2 separate regions of the Homo sapiens genome follow, and region 2 is linked to region 1. The links come from fine-mapping of genetic effects on gene expression. Tissue or cell type: caudate. Region 1 holds a variant in brackets; the other region holds the start of a gene. All regions are shown on one strand. Distances are from middle to middle.

Region 1 (8,109 bases):
CAGCCTGGACCCCACAGGCCTTGTTGACTCCTTCCTCACTGTGTTCCCAAGCTCCTGTCTTTTCTCCACACTTCCCATGCCAAACAGACATGATTTTTGATTTCTTCTCTTTTGTTGAATCTGCTAAATGTGAAATCCGGATGATTCCACTAATGTCAGACACCACCAATCTCTGAACAGTCCCATTATGCTTACCTTTCTTGCTGCAATCTGTCAGGAACAAGCTTATTTCATGTTAAAATAAATGGGTTTCACAAGTGCTGCAAACAGCATTTGTTGCCTGTCAGTGAAAATATGAGTGTGGGTTAAAGTTGAGAAGGATCGTTTAGATATTGGGGGTCTTGATGCTCTGTGAGGAATGAATACAATCCCTAGGTGAAATAACCCAACAAAATGAGTTCTTCCACTACGCAGGGAAGACATCCTGGAGCCATGAGGAAAGGATGTTACTTCTGTTGCAGAGCAGTGCAACACTGATGAAAAGGTGAGGGAGGGATGCATATGCCTGACAAAAGATTCCCTCCCAGAATTAATAGTTATGTTGACAGTTCACTCTGTGCACTGTTCATTCTAGCACCCAAAGATAATGATTACAACCAGTTCTTACGGGGCACTTTTTATAACTGGTGATGTTCTAAGTATTATACATGATTTTTGTCATTTAATCCTCAGCCATGCTATAGAGGAATACTAGTATTATCTGTATTTTAAAAATGAAGTCCCTTATCTAAAATTGTACAGCTGCTAAGTGTCGAAACTAAACTTTGAACCCAGACAGACTGGTTTCAGACTTTTACTTTTATCCTATATTAATTCCATTTAATGACAATACTTCTAAAATATCAGTGCCTTTCATAGTACTAGCAGATAATAGATGCTCAATGAATATTTGCTGAAAGAAAACATTTGCTAAAAATATTAAATCTTATCAGAGAAGGGAGTAAAGGGTATGGGATATTGTCATTAGTAACTTTGTCTTCCCAGGACTACAGTCTCAGCTAGATGAGGCACTAGGTGCAGGCATTTTGTAGGACACCATGGAAGAGATCAAGATCTCCCCTCCTTGTCCCAAAGGTTCAAAATCTCGGAGTTAGAACACAGCTTCTCTGGTCCAGCCACCCTGAACTCTATTGTGACTCCTTAGCCATGCCATATATATCATCCCTCCACACATTGGCTCTTGTTTCCATTGCCTGAAATGTGCTCTCCTCTTTTGTTCACAGGGAAAACTCTTCATCGCTGTTTAAGGATCACTACTTCTCTATCATTTTATCTGACTTCTGCTTTACGTTTTTGAGTCAAAAGTAGCTGTCCTTTCACATTTCAATTTATATCCAACTCTACCATTTTGCATTATTGGCTAACATTTACCACCTATTTTCCCCACTCAAAGGTGAGCTCTTTGCAGGAAGAGTCACGTTTCATCAGTGTATGTATCCACAATACCAAGCATATCCATAAGGCCAAGCATAGTTCCAGATGCGTTCTGGGTACTCATTGGCATGACTTCACCAAATTGTATTTCCTGCTTGCTGCACTTTGCTCTGTTGTTCCAAAGGCTCAGTGGGCCTGCTTGGGGAGTTCAGGGCCAGAACAATTACAGGGAATGGGCTGCCTATCCTTCTCAAGTTAACTGGCCACCAGCCACTTGCTCCAGGGGAGGGTTAACTTGATTTAAAGGTACAAGATTGAGGAAGAGTATGTCATGAACTTGACTAAATGATTCTCTTAACCAGTGTCAGTCCATTGAACTGTCCCTTCAATTTTAACTGTTCCATCAGCCAAACAGCTTACTCAGCTTTTCAGAGGCCTATTACTTGATCTGAAAACATTGGCAACATTTTGGCCTCCAAACTGACTTTAAGCCTGTTATAGATAATGTGTTCTCTCTGGATTAGGTGACACATCTTGGTCGTATTGGAGAAACATCAGTTATGTCTGTGCCTTGGCTGGTAACAGCCAGAATTGAGGGTGTGCCAGCTTGCACCTCATTGCTAACAGACTCCTTAATTTACCTGCTAAATCTAGTAGACCATTCACTGTTGTCTTAGAATTGAGATGCATAATGTGCACACTTGTTCTTCCTCTACACTTTATTTGCTCAGGTTATTAGATAGTCAAATTCTCTTGGGTTCTGCATTAAACCTTGTCAAAAGAAGCAAGAATGTGAGAAACACCCAATGGGGCTTGATTTCTTTGACGAGACTTGCTATTGCTGCATTTACCCCTCGATAATTGAGTTTCTGTTCCTCCTAATATTTAAACACATCAACTCACTTAATCTTAAGTGTCTCCTTTTCTTGTAATGTCTCCATTCTCATAAACTACTGTTTGTAAAATAAAAGGCTGAAGAAGCCCCTTTGTGTTTTCCTTTTACGGAGGCCTGTGCAGTGAGAATGGAAGCTCTGACTTTTCATGCTTCTTGGGCTATGCATATGCATGCCTCCTGTTTGTCATGCCTGAAATAAATTTTCTACCTGTGTTTTTGCTTCATGCTTTGCACACAGTGCCCCAAATTGCTACTCCATGGGAGACTAGCCAAGGACACGTTGTGTTCCATTTTCATGATGAAATGTAGATTTCCCGTTGAACCTAATCAACCTTCATTTCAAAGGGTTGACAAGGCAGATACTTAAAGAATTCAGTTGGTTAAATTTATGGTACTGAAAAAGGGTCCATTCCAAGAATATTCTCTGATTCTAAAGCTGTAGAATTTTTATTTGATTGTGTATTAAATTACATTTTTATTCACTTCAAGTCCCTGCTTCTCAATTTTGTGTCCCGCATAGAGAGACAAACTTGTTGACAGTCATATTGATCTAACATTCTGTCCCAGACTGAAAACATCTAGTCTTTCAGTCATGTTTCCATCAGATAATTTTTATACCCAATGATATATCTGAGATTTTTGCATGAAAAAATATGGTCTTTTTCTAGTCAGGAAGTAGAAATAATGTACTTTGAATTAGTAAACATGTTCCAGGGATGTGCTAGATTTTAACATCTGCTAAATCATTTTTTGCAACTCTGTGGGGTGGGTGCTGTTGTCTCTTTTTCACAAATAAAGGTATCTGGACTTAGGCTTCTATGGTCTTTCCCCAAAACACAGATAGCAGAGGAGGCAAATCCAGGCTTGCCTTTCCCCAGAGCAATTGCTTTTTTGACATTCTGTAAAATTTTTTTCCCTAAAAATCCTTGTTAGTATGGGAAGGCCAACAGTACTTAGAGTATCAAATGAGACAAAATTCTTCCTGCTTACCCCAGATGTGACCTAAGAATCACTCTCAACACAGCATCTAAGTAGCCACTATCGATTAATTAGTACTAGTATGCAGATTGAAAATTATTTGCCATTCTGTCTGCAAAGCCTGCAAGTGTGGACTTTATTACTAGACCATAAGGTTCATACCCTAACCCACTCTCTCAGCAAAGTAGCTCCAATGAAGAGGGGATGGTAATGCAGAGACCTAAGGCACGAAGACCCACTGACCTGAAGAAGCAAGGGTGGTGTCAGCAGGAGTCATTAGTAACACAAACAAGTGACACACAAATAAGACATCTTGTGTATCCTTCAGCCAGTTGAGAATCTCTCTGGCAAAAAAAAAAAGGTTTATTTACCTTGGAAGTATCCCATAAAGATACAGCAACCAGATTTCTCTCCCACTCTAATTCACTCTTTCAGGTCACTCTAAACATAATATATAATTATGTAACTTAATGATTCATACCCAATTACATGCTTGTTCTCACCCAGTTTGCACATGCTTTCTAAC[A/G]TCATTGTGTACTTGGCTACCCACTCAGCATCCATTTTCTTCTTTCTAGATCACATCTGCATTCCCTGCCCACCTTCTCCCTCCAGCAACTTCCGCAGCCTAGTCATACATTGTGTGCATCAGGCCTTCACCAGCATGCTAAGACTTGTCCAAGAGTCTTGATGTCCTAAACTGCAAGTGACATGTAAAGCTTGGATCCCAAGGTCAAACAGCATGACTTGAGGATAACATAAATAGGTAAAAACATGCACTCCTTCACTCATATGCCATTTTAGAACACTTGATTAACTATGTCTATAAAATGAGAAGTCTTTTTTTGCTCTCTAAACCTGGGCCTGCTTTTAAGCAGGGTTAATATGGACAACAGTAAAGCCCTGGTTTTTCTGAAGTCTAGTATGGATTTGGTTATGTGAAGTTGAAGCCTTCACATACAGCCCTGGAACCAAGCAGAATTGCTTTGCATAATAGAGAAGAAAGTTGGCAAGGAAAGATCCAGGAGTAAATGACAGGAAAAAGGGCAGTTGTGTAATTAGATGCAGAGAAACTCCAGTAGTGGCATGACTGAGAAGTGAATTGGAGGTATAGGTATGTCTAGTGGGAACATTTAAGAGTTTTTTTTTTAGTGTGAGATGTCACACATAAAACTCCTACTTCATCATCTGTTGATACCAGCCCTTATTTTGGCATGATTCCTTCGGTGGACTTGAAAGAGGTACTAAGCTCTCTATATCCGGGGTAAGTGAGGCAAAAACAGAGGGAGCAAGTTTATATGCAGGAGCTGCAGGGGTTGCAGAGGGGAGTCTCAAACAGCCTCAGAGAGACATTTTGGAGTCTGAATTGGAATTATCTAAATCAAGGTATCTAGATTACTAAGTAGAGCCTTTCCCAGTCTAGGGTTCCTTTCTGAAACAAAACACACACACACAAAACTTCAGGAACAATTTTCTCAGTCCTCTCAAGGTTGCAAATATCTAGTATCATTCTAGGTGTGTGGAAGAGAAGCTAAGTTACTATATAATATGGATATTTTAGTGCAAGGGTCAACAAACTACTACTGGGGGCCAAATCCAGCCTATTGTATACTTTTGTAAATAAAGTTTTGTTGCAACACAGATACTCCCACGTGTTTATGTATTGCCTATGGCAGTTTTCATGTATTACCCACAATGCCTAAAATATATTTTGTGTGGACCTTTCATTAAAAGTTTACCAACTCCTGTTTTAGGGCATTAGGTCTTTATTAAGCCTTAAATTTTTAGGAGACCCTAGATGAGAAAGGCTGATTGGTGACATCTTAGATTAAGTAATCAACTTAGAATGGAGCCAGGAATGTGTCCTCACCTCAAATGAACACTAACAGGAGATATTTACTGTACAGACCATTCTGTTCTTTGCCAAGATGACAGTTGAGACTTAGTCATATTTGAAAGAAAGTAGACTAAAAAGAGGAGAACGTTACAGTTGTAACTTTGCCAGGATTCCAGTCTATTTATGACATGGCCTAGGAAACTTAAACCCAGTTGGGGAAAAACTCCCATGAAAGAGTCTATAATGGCCATAGATTTATCAGATTTATACTCAGTCCCCTTTCTCAGAGAGACATATCTCTTCTAAATTTAGACATGCAGTGGTGGCAGGCCTAAGCACCAGTTTGGGGACTTTTTGTTTTGTTTTGTTTTCCCATCTTGTACATTCAAAACCTCTTTTTTGTCTTGGCTTATTTAGAGTGCTTGTACCTGGTGCCTGAGAACCAAGTTGGATGTGGGCTCTGTTTAGAGATATAGCCTCTTTGAGCTTTGTGTGCAGATATTTACCAATCTTGTGCCTCAGTGACCCCACCATGTCTTTTCCTATGGCATTGTTTAATCCTAAGACTTCTGTCGTTTAAGGTTTTTACCCTTGCCTTGACATCCCTTTTAGCTAGGGCATTACCCTTGGAAGGCTCTAAAACAGAGGTTGCCATTGACATTTCTGAAGTCTATGCCCCTAAGCACATCTGCCGTGCAGTTCTTATTTTTCCTCTGCTTTTAGATGTTACAGGCCTTGAGTAACATTTTTTTTCACTGTAATATTTTTCTCCAGTAATGGGATATGTCTCTAATGCTTCATTTTCCTTGCTAGTTTCTCTTTGCCTTTTAAGAAAAGCTCAGCTGAGATTCTGACAGTTTAACTTTCTTCTTTAGTTTGTTCCTTTCATTCTCTACCACAACATGGAAGGCTACTGGTATTAGCTGGACTAAGCACTCTCTTTCCTTTCTCCTTTTTGATCTCTGCCCTAGACAGGGATGATACTCAAGTATTTAACAATTAGTATGGCACAGTCACTAACCAATAGAAAGAAATGCTGACTGTAAATAAGACATATGGCCATGTTGGTATATACTGGTGCGGAATATCAGCCCAGCCCTAGACATTGGCTTTTTAAAAATTTATGAGATATGTATATACATATATTTTATAGTGGGCGGCTTTACAGTAAGACATGATAAGTCAGTGAATTCTGGTCAATAAGGTAATCTATTGTTCAAGCATATCCACTTTGGCTTCCAAACCTGGATTGGTAAACCTAATAGTAGTATTGCAGCAGACCAACATCTAAACCAGAACAGGATTTCATCTTTTATTGTTTTCCCCAGGTCCCTGTTAGTATTTTTTCTGTATTCCTCATATTCTCTTAGAGGTCAAGTTTCACGAATTTTGGCATACTTCAATAGCTGCATCTGCACCATTGTGTGCTGGAGCTGGCTCTCATTGGCTCATAGAGCTGGCTGTGCGCATCTCTTCCAACTTTGTGTTCAGTGACTTTACATTGAATGCTTGAAATCAGTCATGGAGGGAGTATTCATATCTCAGAGATTGACAAATGCTACGAATAAGGTTATTATTTTCCAGAGAGTGGGTTGTTAAACAATAACCAACACAATTCCACCTACAATAACTAGTCTCCTTGAAATTTACCCCAATAATGCTGCAAGTATTTTAAGATGATCTTTCCTAAAGTAGTCTAATTTCTTCTCCTGAAACCTTTTGTATAGCTATTCCAACTTTCAAGAAGTGGTTCTCCAGTTGCTGTTTCATAAATTACCTTCAGCGTTAAAAGGCGCGTTTTCTTGGATCCAGGCTTCCTTTAAGATTGGTTAAGCTCTTATTCTCTTGCTCTGTGGGATTTCTTTGGACTACAGCAACCCTTTTGAATCTAAAACAAAACATTTCCTCCTCTTTTCTAATCTCCTCTCTTTGAGCCATTTGATCTAGAAACATCTCTTTTTCCTTTTTATATCTGTCTATTGGCATCTAAGGTTTTATTTTCACATTAAGATGGGTCTAGGCAGATCTCCAAGAGTTCCCAAGGATTTTTTTTTTATTTCTTCTACAGCTTCTGATATGGTATTAAGATAATTCATATTTTTAAAGCAAAGTCCATTTCTTTTCTTAGCAAGCTTAACTCCTGGGGACTACTCCAGACAAAGACCTTTTTAGCTTTTAAATTCATAACCATAATCACTGCAATTTTTTTAAATTACTTAACCTAACAAGATACCCTATTCTTTCTTTTTTTTTTTTTTTTGAGACAGAGTCTCACTCTGTCACCCAGACTGGAGTGCAGTGGCACAATCTCGCCTCACTGCAATGTCTGCCTCCCAGGTTCAAGCAATTCTCCTGCCTCAGCCTCCTAAGTAGCTGGGACTACAGGTGCACGCTGCGTCTGGCTAATTTTTTGTATTTTTTAGTAGAGACAGGGTTTCACCATGTTGCCCAGGCTGGCCTTGAAATCCTGGGCTCAGGCAATCCGCCTGCCTCAGCCTCCCAAAGTGCTAGGATTACAGGCGTGAGCCACTGCACCTGGCCACCTTATTCTTTATAAAATAAATATTCCTATTCTTTAAAAAATGCTCATTAATAAAATCCACCATCCTTTTGTGGATGAGAAGACAAAGTCTGGGTGTTTAAAACCTGAGGTCTTGGCCAAAACCTAGGTTTATTAATAAATCTGGAGCCAACCCAGTATCATGGCACCAGGGATAACCTTTGGCTACTCATGAACATCCTGCACAATCTAAGAAGTTAGCATCTCCCCACTTCTCAGGCTTGGCCCTGAATGCAATTCAAAATAATATAAAAGAACTAACTTCAAGAATGTACCTCCTCTTCTTTTCAACTAATTTTCTTTCAAATGTAAGCTCTAATATCACCTCTATGAAGATTTCTCTGACTCCCCAGTGTATTTGGTCTTCCCTCTGTACTTTTGTTCGTTCTGTTTTATTATACCTGTATTGTATAATAATTCTTTTTTTCATTGTTCTGTAACACTAGGAAGTAATCTTCCTCGATGAGA
Region 2 (8,109 bases), 310 kb after region 1:
GTAGAGATTTAATGAATGTGTAAGAAGTACACATGGAGATTAGCTAAACTGCATCAAGTAGCCGTAAGTTCTGAATGAATAAAGAAAAATTAGAAATTTTCTTCATTCATCCCCTCAGACTCACACATCTATCACTTTCACCTATATTTTCTTCTCTGTATCTTATACAACGTTGAACTTCCTTCTGCATACTGCAAGTATCTGTTTGCCTAAGCTACAAAACATGTCAGAGAATGGTGGTCCCACAGGGTCCTGAGCTCTCTTTCTAGAATAAAATAACCAAGAGAACCACTGAGAGCCTAAATCTATTGCTACCCAACTGCTGAGTTATTTACTTTTGTGATTTCTAGAGGCAGAGACCCACTGAACTTGTCCCAAGTGACAACATACTGAAATGTTAAAATAGCATAAGGGAGTGGGTAAATAGAGGGAGAGGTTGAACAAAGGATTGCTAATTTCAATGGAAAGAAAGTTAAAATTTCCAAAATCTGTAAAAGAGAGAGGAAAGAGGTGATGGCAGATAAGAAGACAACTTGAAAAAGAAAACTTGCTTGTACTTTCTTCTCCTATAAAGTCTGAAGCCGTGTAAAAAATTTTAAAGAGGCAGAATATACATTAAGAATTGCCACAAGTGTATAGTTTAATTCTTGCCTATATATGCATCAATGTAACCATTACTCACTTTATTTCCAGCACTGCAGGAAGCATGTTCGTGAACGTTCTCAGTCAAAACCCTCCACTCCCCAGAGATAATTATATTCTGACTTCCATCACCAAAGATTAATGTTACTTGCTCTTGAACTTTGTAAATATAGGATCTTAGAGTATACACTCTTTTGTGTCTTGATCCTTTCACTCATCATTTTGTCTCTGAGATTTATCCATGTAGTTGTATGTTTTATTGCGGTGCACCACTCTATTACATGACTACATGGCATTTATTCATTCTGTTCTTGATAGATATTTGGGATGTTTCTGGGGTTTTTTGGCTATTATAAGTAAACTTGTTATAAATGTTTTTGTGCTTGTCTTTTGGTGGATGTATGCAATCATTTCCTCTGGGAAAACACCAAGGACTATACATTACTTAATTTGCTTTGACTACTACACTGGAGAAAATCTCATGAAGATGACTCTGAAGCCTATTATCTTGCCAAAATAATTGAATAAGGTGATAGTGGCAAAGGCTATCGCTACTGAGTGCCAACTAAATGCCTAAAATGTGTCACATTGTTTACATACATAATCTCATTTCCTCCTCACAACCACCCCCAAAACTATGTATTATTCCTGTTTTGCAAATAAGAATATTGAATTTAAGACTTTGTATTAGGAAATAGCTCTTGCTTTCCTGAGTGTATGTGTATGTATATGTGTAGATGTTGGGGGAGATGTAAATAAATGCCCAGGGAATGGAGCTAAAAGAAGGGAAGTGATGGAAGTTCTCACTGCATAGGTGCAGCTGCAGATTAGCTTGGAGAGATGGGACAATCTGAAGAATAAAGAGTGTTGCACTTCAGGTGGACAGAATGTTATGGGAGGAGTGAAAATAGGAAATAGATTTTAATTTGATTGAGAGATGTGTGTGTCTGTGTGCACATGTGTGGTGGGAGGATAGAGATATAGTGCAGTGAGCAAACTATCTAAAAAACAGTGTGAGATTAGAAGAGTTTTAAAATTTCTAAACCATGGGTTTTCAGCTTTATCATGTAGAAAAAGAAAAACTAGAATGACATAATGAAAGTTAGATTTCATGAAGATCAACCTGGTAGTTGTGTACAGAATGCGTTGCTAGGAGGAAAAGGAATCAAAATCTATTTTAATAGTCAAGGAAAGAGGCCATTGGTGCTTAAATACAGGAAGGTGTATCTCAGGAGAAAAGTGAAGATTGGAGATAACAGCGCTTGCTGTTTTACAGTGTTTTAAAGAATAGAAATTTTCTGAGAATGAATAAATGCCATGTAGTCATGTAATGGACTAGTACACAGCAATACAATATTGAACTACATGGATAAATCTCACAGACATAATGATGAGTGAAAATATTAAGACACAAAAAAGCATATACTCTAAGATTCTATATTTATAAAATTCAAGAGCAAGTAACATTACTCTTTGGTGATGAAAGTCAGAAACATTTTCTGTGACCAGCAGGGGTGAGCGGAGATGATTGGCCCCTTTTGTTGATGGGGAACTAAAGACAAGAATGGTCCAAGCTTATCTCCAAATAAGAATATTATGAAGTTAAGTCTTGAATCCAGTTCTATTATTTCACTATATCATTATGCCTCTACACAAAGGTGATGATTGAGATGCATAACATTTTCCCCCATCTCCTCTAAATGTAAAACATCATGCATTAGAGATGGCCTGGTTTCCATGTACTTCAACCTTTACCCACATCTCTAGGTATTTAATTCCCTAAGAAAGGGCCATGTGACATTATTTCCATTTTTACAGGAATCAAGTACTCTGGAATAATATATTCTCTTTTAAAAAATTCTACTGTTTCTTTTGTTTGGTTTTGTTTAGAGAGGTCTAGAAAGACTTGAGATACCAACTACCAACTATGCCCAACTCAATATACATTTTAAGAAGACTAGATATTGACTTATTGGAAAATCAACCCTAAATGGTTTACTTGGGCTTTCTAACATGACTCAAGAATCTTCAGAAAATTAGAAAGAAAGATTTCAAAGTGACAGTAGATTATATGCTACTCAAAAGCAGGAGTAGTATTTTTCTGGCTGTGCTTAGCCTAATGCTTATGATACAGTAGGTACACAAACATTTGCTGAATTAATTACTGTGGTCCATAAAGCCCAGTGATTATCCATGGGTGCACCCTAGTGTACCATAACCATATAGTGGAAAGAGCAGTGGGCAAAGAAATCTTGTTCATGGTCTTAGCTCCATAGAAGATAGATCACTCTTTAATGGGTCTCAATTTCCTTATCTGTTAAGTGAGAGATTGGATGAATACATGATCAGGTACTTACATGCCATTTCTCACATTCTAGTATCAAGGGTGTGTTCCTGACATCCACTATAATTATTCAATGGCAAATAACCTTGCATAAGTAAGTTTAATACTAGATTTTTGTTTATGCTAGGGATAACAGAATGAAAGAGATATCATGGGGTTTTTGTCTCACTCAGTATCTCTTAGGGGAGCAATGACGATCAGGATGAGTTTTCAAAAGTCGTTAGCTGGTACATCTTTTTTACAGTAGTTTACAGTAGTTTGCAATGCTGCATGGTAAGATAACTTGGGGTTAATTCCCAGATAAGTTACATATAAAAACTCAACTAATAAAGTGTCTTTGTTCTTCTTTTCTTTGCATATGTGGTAAATGATCTTTCACTACTTAAACATTACCTTAAATATGGCTTATTTTCTCTATTCAATTAGATAAACTTTGTAAAATATATGGCAAAAGCTTTTTTGTCTTTTAAAGAACATATTTTCACATATGCCAATAAACTGACACCAGGTAGAATGAAAATGTAATTGTTTCTTAAGTAGGGGTCCTCTTTTAGAACAGTAGTGCATTAAATTTCTAGAGTGAGAACTACAAATAACACAGTCTTCACAGCACCTAGTATTGAAGTTAGCATTGACCCAATAACAATGGAGGGACACACTTTTGAAATAAGTTATTGGTTATCATGTGAGAGAAAGTTCAGTTAAATGTCAGATTTCAGAATACACAATGTCACTTTTCTACCACTGTTTATTGCATATTGTCATCATTTTTAAAAGGCAACATTGTTGAGCACTACTGGGAACAGATCTTACATGGGTTTTGGTGGTGGTGGTGGTGGTGTTATTCTTCAGAATACTTACGCAGGGTGCTGAACATCTTCCCTGTTGTACTCTTGACTGGATTGGGATTGACTTAGCTCATACCCAAGGATATTCTTTTATTACTTTTCCATCTGTTAAGAATGCTTAGGAACTTTGGTTTTTCTCACAATTTCTTTCCAGCTTTGTCCTATTTACTAGATTGTCTAAAATTAAAGTTTCAAGATTTATTTGAGCTAACCCTACTTTTTTTCTATCAGCTATAATATTCCCCAAATCATCTTTTTATTGGTTACTACAGATAAAATTTGTGATAGAAATGAAATGAAGCAGAGAGAAGTTGCGAGTAAAAGTTTCGATCTCCTGCTTAACTGTGCACCTTACTCTGTTGTGCATATCTATCCATCCATCTAAACCAGTATAACAAATATTTTCTTTAAATATTTTGCAAAGTTAGTGCTAAGTAAAAATATGCACATGTGCATTCCCAGCTCCCGTTTATCCTATGTACAAATCCAACTAGTGGGGGACGGGGCGGGGTGGAAGCAAGATTCGGACAAGCTATAATACATCCACAAAACCACTGGGGGAATTTTCATCTCCCCTCACCGCGCAGCTTTGCAGAAGCGCCCTTTAAGGTGTATGTCTGTGTGTGCCTCTCTCAAGCCTTCTGGATGATGATGCGAGAGGGAAGATTTTACATTGCAAAGATCAATGTATTAAAAATGCCGTGCAGGTAGTTCATAGCCAAGAGCCTTGCTCGTGTTGGAGGATGCAACGGAGGAGAGAGGCAGGAGCACCGGCAGCCAGCTGGGGGCTGACCTGATTCCCTAGAATCCTCAGCTCCCTTCCTCTTTCCTTTCGACGTCCTTCCTTCCCTTTTTCTCCTCTCCCCCCTCCCCCGCTTTCCCTTCTCCAGATAAGCAGCTCCGGGAAACAAAGAATCCGGGGCTCTCCAGACATCAGAGCTTAAACCCAGGACTCTGCAAGCGGCATCTCATTCCGGGGTCCAGGGCTCTCCCGGCTCTCCATCCCCTCCCTAACCTCCCCCGCCTCCCGCGCTCGCTCCCTCGCTCCCTCCCCGCTCGCTTCCTCCCCCACCATCGCAGCGCTAGGAGGAAGGCGGCCGGGGCTCAAGATGGCTTTAGCCGGGCTCTGCGCCCTGCTCGCCTGCTGCTGGGGGCCGGCGGCGGTGCTGGCCACGGCCGCCGGCGACGTGGATCCATCCAAGGAGCTGGAGTGCAAGCTCAAAAGCATCACGGTGTCGGCACTGCCCTTCCTGCGCGAGAACGACCTGAGCATCATGCACAGCCCCTCGGCCTCGGAGCCCAAGCTCCTCTTCTCGGTGCGCAACGACTTCCCGGGAGAAATGGTCGTGGTGGACGACCTGGAGAACACGGAGCTGCCCTACTTCGTGCTGGGTGAGTCCCGGGGGAGGTCGAGGCGGCCGGAGGCGCTGGACCGGCGCCCCCACCCCCCACTCCAGCTCGCTCTACACACCCACTCGCCGACGACCTCCCCTCCCCCACTCCTACCTCCCGGATCCGCCCCACTCCCGGACCATTCTCCACACCCACTTGCATACTAGCGCCTCTGTGCACCTGACTTCTCCCCAAATCCGACCTGGATGCTGAGCCTCCTCTCAGCTGCCCTGCCTCAAAGAAACAGGTTGCATGAGTCTCTCTGAAACCTCTCCCAGCCTTGACCTCCCAGCTTTGATTCAGGAGCACATCCACACAGCACTTTTTGTCTGCTACCAGTTCAACTCCCATAATCCCTTCTCCCCACTCCCTAGCCACATGCTCAGCTCTTTGCTTCACTCACTCTGGATACCCACACCCACCTACAGCACTTCCTGGGGGCTTTAGAAACAGGTATCCTGTCATCACCTTGCCAGCTATGTGCAAGCCAGATTCTAGTCTTCATTCATGGAGAGCCCTTTATCTGTCACCAGGCTACTGACACCCTCCCTTCCAAACACTCAAGTTTCTTATCCCCCAGCTGTTCATTCTGGGAAGTCCTACCTCCATGCTTAGATGTCACAACCCCCTAATTCAACCACATCCACACATCCATGTCACGTCACAGTTGGTTAAAGATATTATACAACTGTAGTCTGTTAGTATTGGTCTCTTCTTTGTTCCCAGGGCCACCTTAGATAGGCGTAGGCATTCCTGCACACAGAATGACCTTTCTAGGCAAGGGGCTCTTCCTTCCTTTGTTTGTTTACATCTCTCTCTTTTTGGTACTCCCACTGTAATTTTCTTAGGTCACCTTCAGGTAGTGGAACTCCTGTCACTTCAGGTACTGGAACCCATACATTACTTCAAATCATCCCTGTTTTCCACTACTAAGCTGCAAAGGTTTTGTGGTCCTGCTCTAGTATCTTGCAAAGCACCACAAGTTCATGTTACTTTGCCAAATTCCCCTCACTTCTCCATGTGTAGATGGAGCTCTCACCTTGCTGTGCATGCCTACCATGCAATCCATTTCTTTAGTGATGTTGCCAATTATTCTTATTTTGCCCAGGAGAAATTCAAAGAAAACCACACTTCAGTCTCTAGATCCAAGTAGAGAAAAAAAGAAAATGTCTAGGAGGCTGTTCCATTTACTTGATACCCTACCAACTACAGTTCCATTTGCAGAAACATGGTTTCCTGATGGCCACATGTAGGCTAGAGCCACATGTGGAATTCTAACACATCCCTCTTGCTCTTCCTTCATAGGAGATGTCTTCACACTGAAAACACTAGGAAGTGAGTGAATAAACCCCTACTCCCCAACCCTTAGGGAAAAGCAATTTCAAAAATTGCCTGGCCCTTTGAAAAGTTGCTTTATAGTTCCCGGAGTGCAGCTCAGTTGAACCCATTAAACCCAACCTATGCTCTTGATAGGATTATTTATTTTTGCTTTCAAAAATACCAATAACATAATAAAAACTGGGGACTAGCTGGAAATGGGAGCATTGTGGATATGCCGCTCATCAAAATGTACAATTACTGGGTTATTTGGAGGATGGAAAGTTCACGTTGAAGTCATGCTGATATGCAAAGTACAATCTGTTCATCATAGTATATAAAAGTGAGTAGAGGGAATTATGTGTTTCTAAAGAGGCTGTTTTGCACTCTGCTTGTAGTGTTTACTGTGCATGAAGAGGTACAAGCATGGTGCTTAAAAAAAGGGAGGGCTAGCAGGTATTCAACATTTCATTTCTTTTTTGCAGAATCCCAAAACCAGGGCCTAATGCTGTGATGTGCCTACTAGGAACCAATGTGCACAGTGAAAGCCCAGATGTTATAAGAACGGGTTTTCTGCACCTCTGTGCAAAGCTGCCCACTGCAGTGTCCTGTTGGGGTTGCTATGGTAATCTGGTGCAACTTGGCATTTACACACAGGCACACAGACACACTCTCTCACTTCAGGGCCAGATGCACTATTTAAATGCATCGATTATCTCCCACTCTCCCAGTCAGTGGGGTATGCTCAGAACCAGAGAAGGGCTGGTACTTATTCTTTCTGACTCAGTATGCTCAAAGGAAGAAGGAATGAATTTCAGTTTGGGTGGGTGGTTAAACAGATCTGGGCAGAAAGGAAGAGGAGTCCAAATTTATGGAGGATAGACTCAAAGGTAGTTTTGAATTTAACTTTTGTGGTCTTGATCATGCAGCTCTTGGCCAATGGTGAGGGCTGTAGTGACTTTGGTTTTGAGATTTCCCTACTCCTATCTTTGGAACCTTGTTTACTTAATCCATCTCCTGGAGGAATCTGAATCAGTCAATTCTGGAAATTTATTGAGTTGTACCTGCTCAGCACTCAGAGGCATTACTAGGAAACAGAAGTTAAAAAAAAGTCTCTTGCCCTCAAGTGGTCTCTAGTCACTGGAAACACAAAGATACCTGTAAGAGCTGTACCTACCTAATTGTGTGGTATGGCTGTTAAGGGGTATAGGGATGCTGTGGAAGGATTTGCTTGCATGACAAGAGCAGATTCCATGGTAATCATGGACCAGAAGCTTAGGCTAAAATCAGATCCTGTCACTCCTTTGAGTGAAAAAAAAAATTACAAACAACAAGAAAAACAAGCTTTGGCTTCCTTTTGCCTCTAGGATCAAGTCCTGTCACTTCACTGAGGCTAACTAGGGTCTTCTCATTCTGATTGCAGCCAACTTCTCCAGCCCTTTATCCCTCCAAGCCTGCCATGGCCTTCTGGACTGTTTCAAGACTTTGCACATGTAGCTACTCTGCCTGGAAGGCTCTTTGCCCTTTCTCTATTAGGTGGTATCCATTCTTCCTTCTAAACCATGC

The links. PIP is the estimated chance that this variant, and not a neighbour inherited with it, causes the effect.
Region 2: it holds the start of ASTN1, and the variant in region 1 is fine-mapped to the expression of ASTN1 in caudate (GTEx, PIP 0.99).

The regions. Positions count from the first base shown.
Region 1 is chr1:177,468,520-177,476,628 of GRCh38, reverse strand. No RefSeq gene overlaps it. Among named protein-coding and RNA genes, the nearest start is that of LINC01645, 120 kb to the right of the region's middle. The variant A/G (reference allele first, on the strand shown) is at 3,774.
Region 2 is chr1:177,161,511-177,169,619 of GRCh38, reverse strand. It overlaps ASTN1 (astrotactin 1), which reads left to right and starts at 4,908. Exons shown (of 23, transcript NM_004319.3): 1 at 4,908-5,226. The coding sequence starts at 4,944.